Homo sapiens: one gene and its partners. The protein of the gene in region 3 purifies or fractionates together with the protein of the main gene of each other region. This does not show direct contact. Each region holds a gene or a part of one and is shown on either strand. Other genes may lie near its edges. The genes, in order: ACIN1, MPRIP and DOT1L.

What was found.
Region 1: the proteins of DOT1L (region 3) and ACIN1 purify together in Homo sapiens (affinity purification with mass spectrometry, with the first as the bait; one study listed by BioGRID). This does not show direct contact.
Region 2: the proteins of DOT1L (region 3) and MPRIP purify together in Homo sapiens (affinity purification with mass spectrometry, with the first as the bait; one study listed by BioGRID). This does not show direct contact.

Annotation. Positions count from the first base shown.
Region 1 is NC_000014.9:23,061,101-23,064,286, forward strand, and holds part of ACIN1 (apoptotic chromatin condensation inducer in the nucleus), read right to left. Parts: intron 3,158-3,186; coding exon 3,005-3,157; intron 2,478-3,004; coding exon 2,336-2,477; intron 1,975-2,335; coding exon 1,829-1,974; intron 1,424-1,828; coding exon 1,316-1,423; intron 1,176-1,315; coding exon 1,068-1,175; intron 523-1,067; coding exon 198-522; intron 85-197; coding exon 1-84.
Region 2 is NC_000017.11:17,167,915-17,171,564, forward strand, and holds part of MPRIP (myosin phosphatase Rho-interacting protein), read left to right. Parts: coding exon 1-1; intron 2-3,650. UniProt on the Homo sapiens protein: Targets myosin phosphatase to the actin cytoskeleton. Required for the regulation of the actin cytoskeleton by RhoA and ROCK1.
Region 3 is NC_000019.10:2,166,895-2,170,544, forward strand, and holds part of DOT1L (histone-lysine N-methyltransferase, H3 lysine-79 specific), read left to right. Parts: intron 1-3,650. UniProt on the Homo sapiens protein: Histone methyltransferase. Methylates 'Lys-79' of histone H3. Nucleosomes are preferred as substrate compared to free histones. Binds to DNA.

The DNA of each region.
Region 1 (3,186 bases), on a different chromosome or scaffold from region 3:
GGAGCCAATAGATGCAGGGAGCTGCCTTGGTCTTTCGGAAAAGGTCATCCAGCAGCTTGGCAGGTGGTTCCTCCTGGGCTTTCTCTGAGGTGGAAAAAAGTGAACCAGATATGATGCATCTGACCCTCTGTCCCATCCCATCTGGGTCCCTTTCCCACCTACTAGTGGGTATGCGTACCCCATAGCTAAGTACCTACCTTTCTTCTCACTCTTCTTTTCTTTAGACTTCGCACGTTCCTTGCGGCGGCGGTCACGGGACCTTGATCGGGAACGGGGCCCTTCTCGAACTTTGTCCCGATCCCATTCACGCTCTGATCGAGTCCGCTCCCGCCGCTCCATTTCCCGTTCCCGTTCTGCCCACTGTTCCCGCACTGCCCGTTCCTGCTCCCGCTGCTCTGCCCGGGGGTGCTGTGGTGGCTGGACCGGGGGTGGGGGTGGGGGGTGCAGGGGCCGTGGTATTCCCTGCTCCTCTGTCTTAGTTTCAGAGGGACGGTCCACCAAGAGGCCTCGGTGATAATCCAGCTGTGGGGAGAGGAGGGACAAGGACAGTTAGGATAGAGGTGATATCACTCCCACTCAAGGAGCCAGGATGGCCGGGCGCGGTGGCTCACGCCTGTAATCCCAGCACTTTGGGAGGCCAAGGCGGTCAGATCACGAGGTCAGGAGACCGAGACCATCCTGGCTGACACGGTGAAACCCCGTCTCTACTGAAAATACAAAAAAATTAGCCGGGCGTGGTGGCGGGCGCCTGTAGTCCCAGCTATTCGGGAGGCTGAGGCAGGAGAATGGCGTGAACCCGGAAGGCGGAGCTTGCAGTGAGCTGAGATCGCGCCACTGCACTCCAGCCTGGGAGACAGCGAGACTCTGTCTCAAAAAAAAAAAAAAAAAAAAAAGGAGCCCAGGTACCACTTTGAAGCCCCATGGTACAATTAAAGGAACCAAAGCCAGGGAAGAAGAGAAAAGAACAGAAGCTCAGAGACTGCAGGTCTGGCAAGGATCTCAGCTGAAATCTAGCAGATAATGGCTTCCCCTGCCCCTCCTCTCTTTCCTCTCCCTAGGTTTCTTACCTCATCTTGCTCGGCATAGTCAGCACAAAGGAATTTGGGATTGGACTGGGGCCATTTGACCCCGTGCAGAGCTGTGCGGGTGGCAACAGCTTCCTCTACTGTTGAGTACTGGTGGAGGAAGGGAGAAGATGGAGGGTCACAGTGTGTCTGCAACCCTTCCCACGTGCTGCAACACCCTTAAACCTGCCCACACTGGTCACAAAAGGAAATATATGCCATGACCTATAGAATCAGCTTCTTCCCCTCACCGTTACAAAGCAATGAGATTTGATCTTGTCAATCCAGAAGGCCTCTTCCACCAAGGTTCCTGTGCGCCCCAACAACTCCTTTAGCTGGCCTAAAGTGAAAGGACGGACCTGCCAATGAAAATAGACTTTCAGGGTCTAGCAGAAGGCAAGACCACCACCCAATCTTTAGATTTCCCGAGCTGCTGTCACAGGAGTATAGTTTCAAGGTTTGGGGGAGGGCAGAGAGTTTAGGAACCTTGCAGTAAGAATGTGAGAAGAGTGGTGGTGCTTCCCAGCACTAATTGAGACGTTGTATGTGAGGCCTTCTGCAAGTCCTCAAAACAACCCTGCAGGGCAACAGCTTTTCCCCCTCATTTTTAGATGGGTAAATATGTTAAGTAACTCACTCAAGATCAGTGAGTAACTTAATCTATTGGTAGACCAGTTCAACTATGAGTGGAACCTAGGAGGCATAAGCCTAAAGCTCAAACTTAACCACTAAGCAAGCTGGGATGGTGAGAAACAATGACTTACCAAATTGGAGATATGGACAATGTTGCTAATCTTGCCCCGGGGTGGGGAGGGCACCTGGGCAGTTCGGACTGGGTCATCAATGGTAATGGAAACTCCGGACTTCTGCTGGCTAATGGAACGTCGAGTTAAGGTATCTCCTAAAGTCACTATCAAGAAGACCACAAGAACAGCTTTTGGTAGGAAGCAATACTGGCTCTTTTCACCCTCAATGTAACTCTCACGGTTCCCTTTCTTTTATACCAAGCAGCCACTCCTTAATCTAAACGTGCAGAGCACCTATAATCTGCAAAGTACTGTGCTAGGCTAACCTCCTCATCATGGAGATTCAAAGATTAAACAGAGTCAAATCTGGCCCTCAAGTAGCTTACTTAATATGTAGGAGAAAGATATGATATACGAAAAAATATAATGAAAGGCAGGAAACATTCAAAGCTTTCAGCGATCCAAATGAGGTGCTCTGAGAATTCAGGGAGCCGCATTACATTTCTCTCACAATATGTCACTCACCTTTCTTTACTTCATGCTCTGCAGGTGGGGGCAAGGCCACCTCTACTGACACCTGGGGAGGTACAGGAGGTTCTGCTTCAGGTTCCTTCTCTTCTTCCTCTTCTTCCCTCTGCCCATTCTCCTGGCCCTCTGCAGGTACTACCTATCAAGGTGTCAGAGAACACAGCAGGTCTGTTAAACACCAAACTGGCATATTCTTTTCAGCCTCTGGTTCCCCGGTAAGAGTAGCAGTCAATCTAGCATGTTCCTTCCGCTAGGGGTATTTCGTTATCGGCTCACTTCTACCAGATCCTGGGATTGTTAGTGCCTCAACTTTGCCTTGAGGAAAACTAAGACAGGAGTTAGTAAATTTTTTCTGTAGAGCAAAGCAGTACTTCAGGTTTTGCAGGCCACATAGTTTGTTGCAACTACTCAACTCTGGTGATGTTGTAGTGAACAAACAGCCACAGACAAAAGTGAATGAACTCGTGTGGTTGTGTTCCAATCAAACTTTATTTGTAACAGGTAGCCAGCTGGATTTGGTAGTCTGACCCCTGAAAGTGTCAGTCAACCCAACCCTCTGCACAGACAGGGAAGTTCCCTCCAAAGACTTTATCTCAGCTCCTCAGCTAGCTGCTCTGCATCTACTGCTCCCACCTTTCCCCTGACACTGGGGTGCAGAAGCCTTACCTGAGTGACTGTCCGGCATATTTTCAGCCCCTTGTCATGGGTCCCATCATCGCCATTACGCTCTGTCTCATCCTCAGAGATGCGAGAGTCATCAGCATGAAGATCCACAACAGCCTCCTGCCCCGCCAGGGGTTTGATGTCGGGGATGAGGCTCTGGGACACAGATACCCCCCACCCCGTTA
Region 2 (3,650 bases), on a different chromosome or scaffold from region 3:
GGTCTTAACGCCCCATTCAATTTGCAGAGCAGATCTTCCTTGATAATGGGGTGGGTGTGGGGACGTCTGGCTCAGCTACCGTGCAGGCAGAATTGAGGGGATATGCTGCTGTCCCTCTACTTGCTAGCCATGGTGTGGTCTCAGCAGGGCCTGGGCCGCAGGCTTAGCCTCTTGTTCGGCATCCCCCAGTGTCCTCCACCAGGAGGAGAACTAGCAGGAGGGCCGCCAGGGTCCCTGGTGGGAGAGGAGCACGTAGTCTTCCCAGCACTTCCCTGCCTGCCTAATGCGGCCTCTCCGTGTTCCTGAGAGCAGCCCCCAATCCCCTTGCCAGCCTTGCCTCCTTCCTGCCCCTGCCCCGGGAACCCCGTCTGGCCCAGTCCCAGCCCAAATCTGAGGCAGCTGCCTGAGGACAGCCTTGTACTCACAGCAACACCCCGGAGAGCCAGGGCCCAGTTGGAGGGCAGTCTCCTCCTGATTGCCCTAGGAGAGCACAGTCGGGCGGAGGGTCCCTCTCTGGAACTGGCATTTGATGTGTGCTCTGGTGAGAAGAACTTTCCCACGGAGCACAGCCTCCAGCCACTCCTGTCCCCTTCCCCAGGACCTTTACAAGTAGATTTTCCCCAGAACTGTCCTGCATCCCCGCCCCTGAGGTCCTGGAGCACAAAGGCGAAATGCCAGGCCCTGGAGGTGGTGGTGGGCTGAGTGGAGGCCCAGCTGTCTGGCCCCACCCTTTGTAGCTGCAGGCCACACCCACCATGTGTGGCTGTCAAGCATCATCCCTTAGACTCAAAAGTTTACCATGATACCTGTGCCCTTATGTTCCTTCCACTCAGGAAGCTGCCCCAGTAAATGACTAGGATGACTAGGCCCCTCAAAAGCCATGTTCAGGTGGTGCCTTCCACGCTCATGTGGCAGAGCCAGGCGCGCACACAGCCAGCACCATTGTGCTGCAAGCTCCTGACTCCCAGGTGGCTGCCACTGCTCCTGCCTACACATCCTCACAGCCACTGTCTAGCAGGACACCTGTTTTTCCCAGCCCGTTACTCCTGTAGCTCTGAATGGAAACAGCAGCTCACATGTCACCTCTGTGTGACGGACTCGGCCCCACCCAGACACACAGGTGTGGTTGTCAGCGAGCACCTCAGGAGAACTGAGAAGCTCTTTTTCACCATTCTTTCCCCAAATCAGTCAAAACCTTTTAAAAACCATTATGAGTTGTGAGAAGGTTTCAACAGCTATGTTTTCAAAGTGTGTGTATATGATGGCACTGTGGTCAGTTCACCAAGAGCAGCACTGAGATGGGTGGATCCAGGTGCACCTTGAAAAGTTAATTGCACAAACCTTTGCTTTGACCCCAAATACGCTTGCTAGTGCCCTTCCCTGCAGCTTCCCAGACAATCAGCAGGGTCCATGGGGGCAGGGCCTGGGCACAGCAATGCCCTGCTTCCTGTCTGCATCCATAAGAGGCCCCTCCACACCGAGGCTGCTTTAGGTTAGCCAACCAGGTGCAGGGGAGGCCCCATGCAGGTGCCATTATACCAACAGTGAGCAAGAAATCAGAAAAAAGAGGACTGCCTTATGTTGAGAACTGACCAGAGATTGTGCTGGGCCAGTGTCACTAGGAGGGAGAAACAGATGATGCAGGTCGGGATGAGGCCCCTCCCAGGGGCTTGGACACTGTCCACTCCCTGCTGCCTTAGCTGCCGTTGCATAGTGTCCCCTCCTGTGCCTGGGAGCTTCTAGCCCAGGTGTGGTGTTCTCACCCACCCCTGCAGACTTACAGAACTTGTAAATAGACAGCACCTTGAGATTTCATCACTTTATGCAGATTTCCACTTGGGTCGTTGGGGACAGGGTCTTGGCCTAACAGCCGTCCTCTGACATCCACAGGCTCCCACCACACCACGATTGCAGTCATCGGGGAACTTCTTTTGGTGTCAGGAATGATTGGCTTAAATTAACATTTGTTTGCAAGATCAATTATTTTTTAGCATATAGTTTCTCTCCAAAGAAGCAACTAGGTCTTTAAAGATGTCCCAGTGCTTCTGTTAGATTTTTGACTCTTACCTGCATAATATTCCAAAGCACTCAGATCAAAATAAGACTTTTCCCAGCAAGTAGACTCAAAGAAAAAAAAAAAAGACTTAAAAGATCTATTAATACTAGTTGTGCTCGTTTTAGCAGCATATATACTAAAATTGGAATGATACAGAGAAGATTAGTATGGCCCCTTTACAAGGATGACACACAAATTCATGAAGTATTCCATATATATATATATTTTTTTTTTTTTTAATTAAAAAAGACCTATTAGTTAAATGTGTTAACTGAGAAGCCACATACAAACAGAAGCGAGTGGGAGGAAGAAAGAAGAGCTCAACCTTGGGGCCTGAGGACCAGGAGCTCCAGAGCTCCGAGCTCCTGCAGCCGTCCTGAGGTGTGAGGGTGGCAGAAAGAGACAGATGCTTCCAGGTGGAGCCGCTGGGAGAGGGGATGGGACGCCTAGTTAATAGTGGCAATAGCTGAGACATTCACCCAGAGCAGCACATAGGTTGCAGTCAAGTCCAGACTGACCACGAGTTTGGAAATACTGCCTGAGGCTCTCAGAGTTGGCCATCACCAAAAGTGGGCCCAGAGAAAAATGCCCAGGCATGCTGATAGGATTTCTTGGTATCCTTTCTTGAATCCACATGCAAGAAGATTAACCAAGTGGTGCAGGCTATCAGCCCAGAGTGGGGAAACCCCCACACTTGAATTTGGAATGGAATGTGGCCACGTTCTTCCAGTTTTTAAAACTCAGCGAGAGGCCCAGTCCCTTCTCTGAAGCAGACCACTTGAAGGATTTAGACAGAAAGTGTGTGCCTCCGTGCTCAAAATAGCTGCACACCCACCCTTCCCGGCAGCTGTGCAGCACGCTCACCTGCTTTGTTAGTGAGCACAGCTCTGATAACCAGGCCTGGGCTTCCTGGTGTGGCTTGCTCCCATCCTGGGGCATGCCTATGTCGCTCTAGGGAGGCACAGGAGAGTTTGGAAAGCAGGTCTCCTGTCATGTACTTGTTAGAGTTAGCAGAGGTGCTAAGTCATTGGTGCCCTTCTTTAAGAAAAGAGTAAGAAAGAAGACACAGGCTAGAAGGAAGGGGAGCCTGTAGCCTGATCTTACTCCCTCAGTCAACACCTGAGCATTAAGTGACCAGCTGGAGGTTGTCAGCTGGCTAGTGGCAGAGTCCCAACCCCCAGCTCCCAGAAGTGGACTCTATGTACCCCCAACCCACTGTGGGTTGAGAGGCTCCCAGCCCGGTGCCCGCCAGGCCACTCCCTATATGTGGAATGGCCTTGGTTCCCTCCAGCAGACAAGTCCCTCATCCCTGTTTTACGGGCCTTTCACCGTGTCCCTCCAGACCAGACACAGCCAGCCTCTGCCCACGTGCTCTCTCTTCCTTCCTGTGGGTCCCACCTGGCAGCAACGCAGGAAGGTCCAGGGTTGGCTGGTTTCCATTTCATAGCAGCCTGTCCCCACCTACCATACCAACTTCTCCCAGGAAGAAATGGGGCACAGTACAGTCACAGAAATAAGAGGTAGAGTTGACTGGTAACACCCTTTTCTGAATGCTCTGATGGCATTGCTGAGAATCCCCAGACAGCCCCAGGGA
Region 3 (3,650 bases):
CTGCTCCCCACCTGGCCTTACCTGTAGTTCTGCCATTCTCAGAAAGTTGGCTGAATGGAATCAACAGCATGTTGCCCTTTGGTCCTGGTGGCTTTCAGGCGGCCAAATCCGTGTTGCTGCAGGTTTCAAAAGTTACCCCATTTTTTTGCTGACTGTAAATCCATTGGACAGTTGGGCCACAGATTGTTGACGTGTTTGCCTGTGGGTCACAGGACTGTGGGCTGTTTCCAATTTTTGGTGATTAGAATAAACCCGCACTAAACACCACTGGCGGGATTTTTGGTGAAAGTCAGTGTTCGCGTGGCGAGGTTCTCAGGGGTGGACCGCACGGCCTGTGCTAAGCGTCTGTTTAACATCTGCATCCCAACAGTTGCCACTTGTCAGTGCTAAGAAACCCACTGGAACCCAGCGTCGGGGCCTGGGGTAGTGGTCTTGCCAGGGACCCTTTGCCTTTTCCTTGGTACTGAAGTGAACATTCACGTGAAGGCAGCCCTGGTGTCCCCGCCCGCATGCCTGCTGCCCTGCCTGGCCAGTGCTCCATTGTAAATAGTAAGGGCGAGAGCTGGCGGGAGCGGGCTTTCTAGTGGTGGGCGGGACTGTGCCGTGTCTTTCCCTCCCTGGCCAGGCCCTGGCTTGGCAGGGTGTGCTGGTCCTGGCGCCGTCTACGGCCTCTTCCTGCTCTGGTTGGCCCACTGCCGGGCCCAGCATCTTCATTCGCCCAAGTGCCAGAGGCAGCCTTCTGACAACCTCGCCGTGACATTTGTCATTTTCTGTGTTCCCGTTGAGGAATTTTGCTTTCTCACAAGAAGTGAGGGGTGGTTCTGATTTTCTTTTCTTTTCTTTTTTTTTTTTTTTTTTTGAGACAGAGTCTTGCTCTATCGCCCAGGCTGGAGTGCAGTGGCACAATCTCCACTCACTGCAAGCTCCGCCTCCCAGGTTTCAGTGATTCTCCTGCCTCAGCCTCCCCAGTAGCTGGGATTACAGACCTGTGCCACCATGCCTGGCTTATTTTGTATTTTTAGTAGAGACAGGGTTTCACCATATTGGCCAGGCTGGTCTCAAACTCCTGACCTCAGGTGATCCGTCCACCTCGGCCTCCCAGAGTGCTGGGATGACAGGCGTGAACCACCGTGCCCAGACGCAGCTGCAGCAGCACATTTATTCATGATTCATTCCAACAGCAGCTACTGAATACTCAGTGTTGTGGGGGCACAGAGGACAACAAGCCAATATTCTCCCCCCGCCACCGCCCCAGCATTCTTAGTCTCAAGAAACCTGTCAAATGAAGACAGGCCGGGCACAGGGGCTCATGCCTGTAGTCCCTGCACTTTGGGAAGCCCAGGCGGGAGGATTGCTTGAGCCCAGGAGTTTGAGACAAGCCAGGGCAACATAGGGAGACTCCATCTCTACCAAAAAATTTAAAACAGTGAAGTTAAGTAGATTATAAATAGAAGTTCAGCAGAGATACTGTGCTGAGTACAAGGTCAGCTGAGGTCCCCAGGGAGGGGCTGCCACTTCTGCCCTGGGGGACCTGTGGGTGGCTGCTTGGAGGAGGGGCCATCCGGAGGAGGAAGCAGAAATAGCCACAACTGTCCACGCTCGGAAATGAGCAGTTCGGAAGGGGTTTGCCCAATTGGCAAACGCAAGGGGGAGGAAGGGAGATTTTTATTCTTACATGACCTGGGAGTTCCTGGATAACCGCTTTTCTCAAGCCCCGCATGGCATTTCTTATTTTTTTGAGAGGGAATCTCGTACTGTTGCCTGGGCTGGAGTACAACGGTGTGATCTCGGTTCACTGCAACATCTGCCTCCTGGGTTCAAGTGATTCTCCTGTCTCAGCCTCCCCAGTAGGTGGGACTACAGGCACCCGCCACCACGCCCAGCTAATTTTTTGTATTTTTAGTAGCGACAGGTTTTCACTATGTTGGCCAGGCTGGTCTCGAACTCCTGACCTTGTCATCTACCTGCCTGGGCCTCCCAGAGTGCTAGGATTACAGGCATGAGCCACCGTGCCTGGCCCTGCGTGGTATTTCTAGGGCAGGATGGCCCTGCCCTTCTTCTAGTGGGAAGGGCACAAGTGGCATTATTGGTTGTTTGCTCGGAAAGAACCTTCAAAGGCCACAGAACGGGACCTTCCCCCTGGTGACTCACAGGCTGTGGGCGGGCAGGGGCGGCCTCCACTGGCCAAGGGTCCGGACTCTCTGACTCTCATTAATGAGTGAGTACATGTTCCGCCTGACAGCCTGGCCTGGAGCCCGGCTGTGGGCGGCGGTGAGTGGGCAGCCAGCAGTGAGTAGCAGCCGGGGCGGGGTGAGCTGTCCCCACCGTGACTCAGAAGGTATTTTCTGCTGCTGACCTCTGAGCTTGAGTGTCCTGAGTAATCCCAGCTCCCCCGGAGGCAGATTAACCTTTAGGCAGCTTTGTGTGAGTAAAGGAGTCGCTTTAAATAGGAAGGAATAATAGAAAAAACCCAAGTGTTCCGTTTTATAGCAAATGCACACTGCTTTGTTCCTGCTGGCCTGAAAGAGGTTGCAGGGGGTACTGGGGCGGGGAATTGTCCAGAAACTCTGCAGATGATACAGGGACACTCCAGCCTAGCCTCTGAGGAGAGTTTTTTTTGAGACGGACTCGCTCTGTCTCCCAGGCTGGAGTGCAGTGGCCCAATCTCGGCTCACTGCAGCCTCCGCCTCCTGGGTTCAAGTGATTCTCCTGCCTCAGCCTCCCGAGTAGCTGGGATTACAGGTGTGAGCCACCACGCCCAGCTCTTTTTTTCCTTTAAAAATCTGCTTGTTATCTGCTGCTCATCAGAGTGTATATTTGGGGTAATTCGAGCCTGTGCTCCCAGGTTGCAGTCCTCAAATGTGGCCCAAATAAATGCTCCACTTATATTAATTTTGCTCCAGTTCCTTTCCTTTAGCTCGACAGTGTGAATCTACAATTATCTTAAAATAAAAAGTTTAATTAAAAAAAACACACGGTTGCCCAGGCACGGTGGCTCATGCCTGTAATCCCGGCACTTTGGGAGGCCAAGGCGGGCAGATCACCTGCGGTCAGGAGTTCGAGACCAGCTTGGCCAACATGACGAAACCCCGTATTTACCAAAAATACAAAAATTAGCTGGGCGTGGTGGCGGTTGCCTATAATCCGGAGAATTGCTTGAACCCGAGAGGGGGAGGCTGCAGTGAGCTGAGATCATGCCATTACACTCCAGACTGGTCGACAGAGTGAGACTCTGTCTCAAACAAACAGACAAAATTAGATAAAGGAAAAAAGAATTTTTGTTCAAGTAATATTGGCCATTGATGGCTGCAAATCACTCTTGGTGTTACAGATTCCAGGAACAGGAAGATAGTGTCCGAGACCAGGATGCAGGAACAGATAGATGCCTTTCCACGCTTGCCCCTGGTGTGGTTGGGAGGCGTGACTGAAATCCTTGCTCTTGTCTCTCTGGACCTGATGCATTTTGCATGCCTCACTGGGCACGGACTGCTTGGAGCTGTTTTTATCTTCCAGCAGTGTGAGGTGTAGGAAGGACCCAACACGGTTCCTCCTGTGCTCTCCGCAGTCAACACAGAGGAGTTGCGGAACCAGATACGGGTACCCGGGGATTCATCAGTTCTGTGTTTCCTACTGGGCAGCCCCGATTCAAC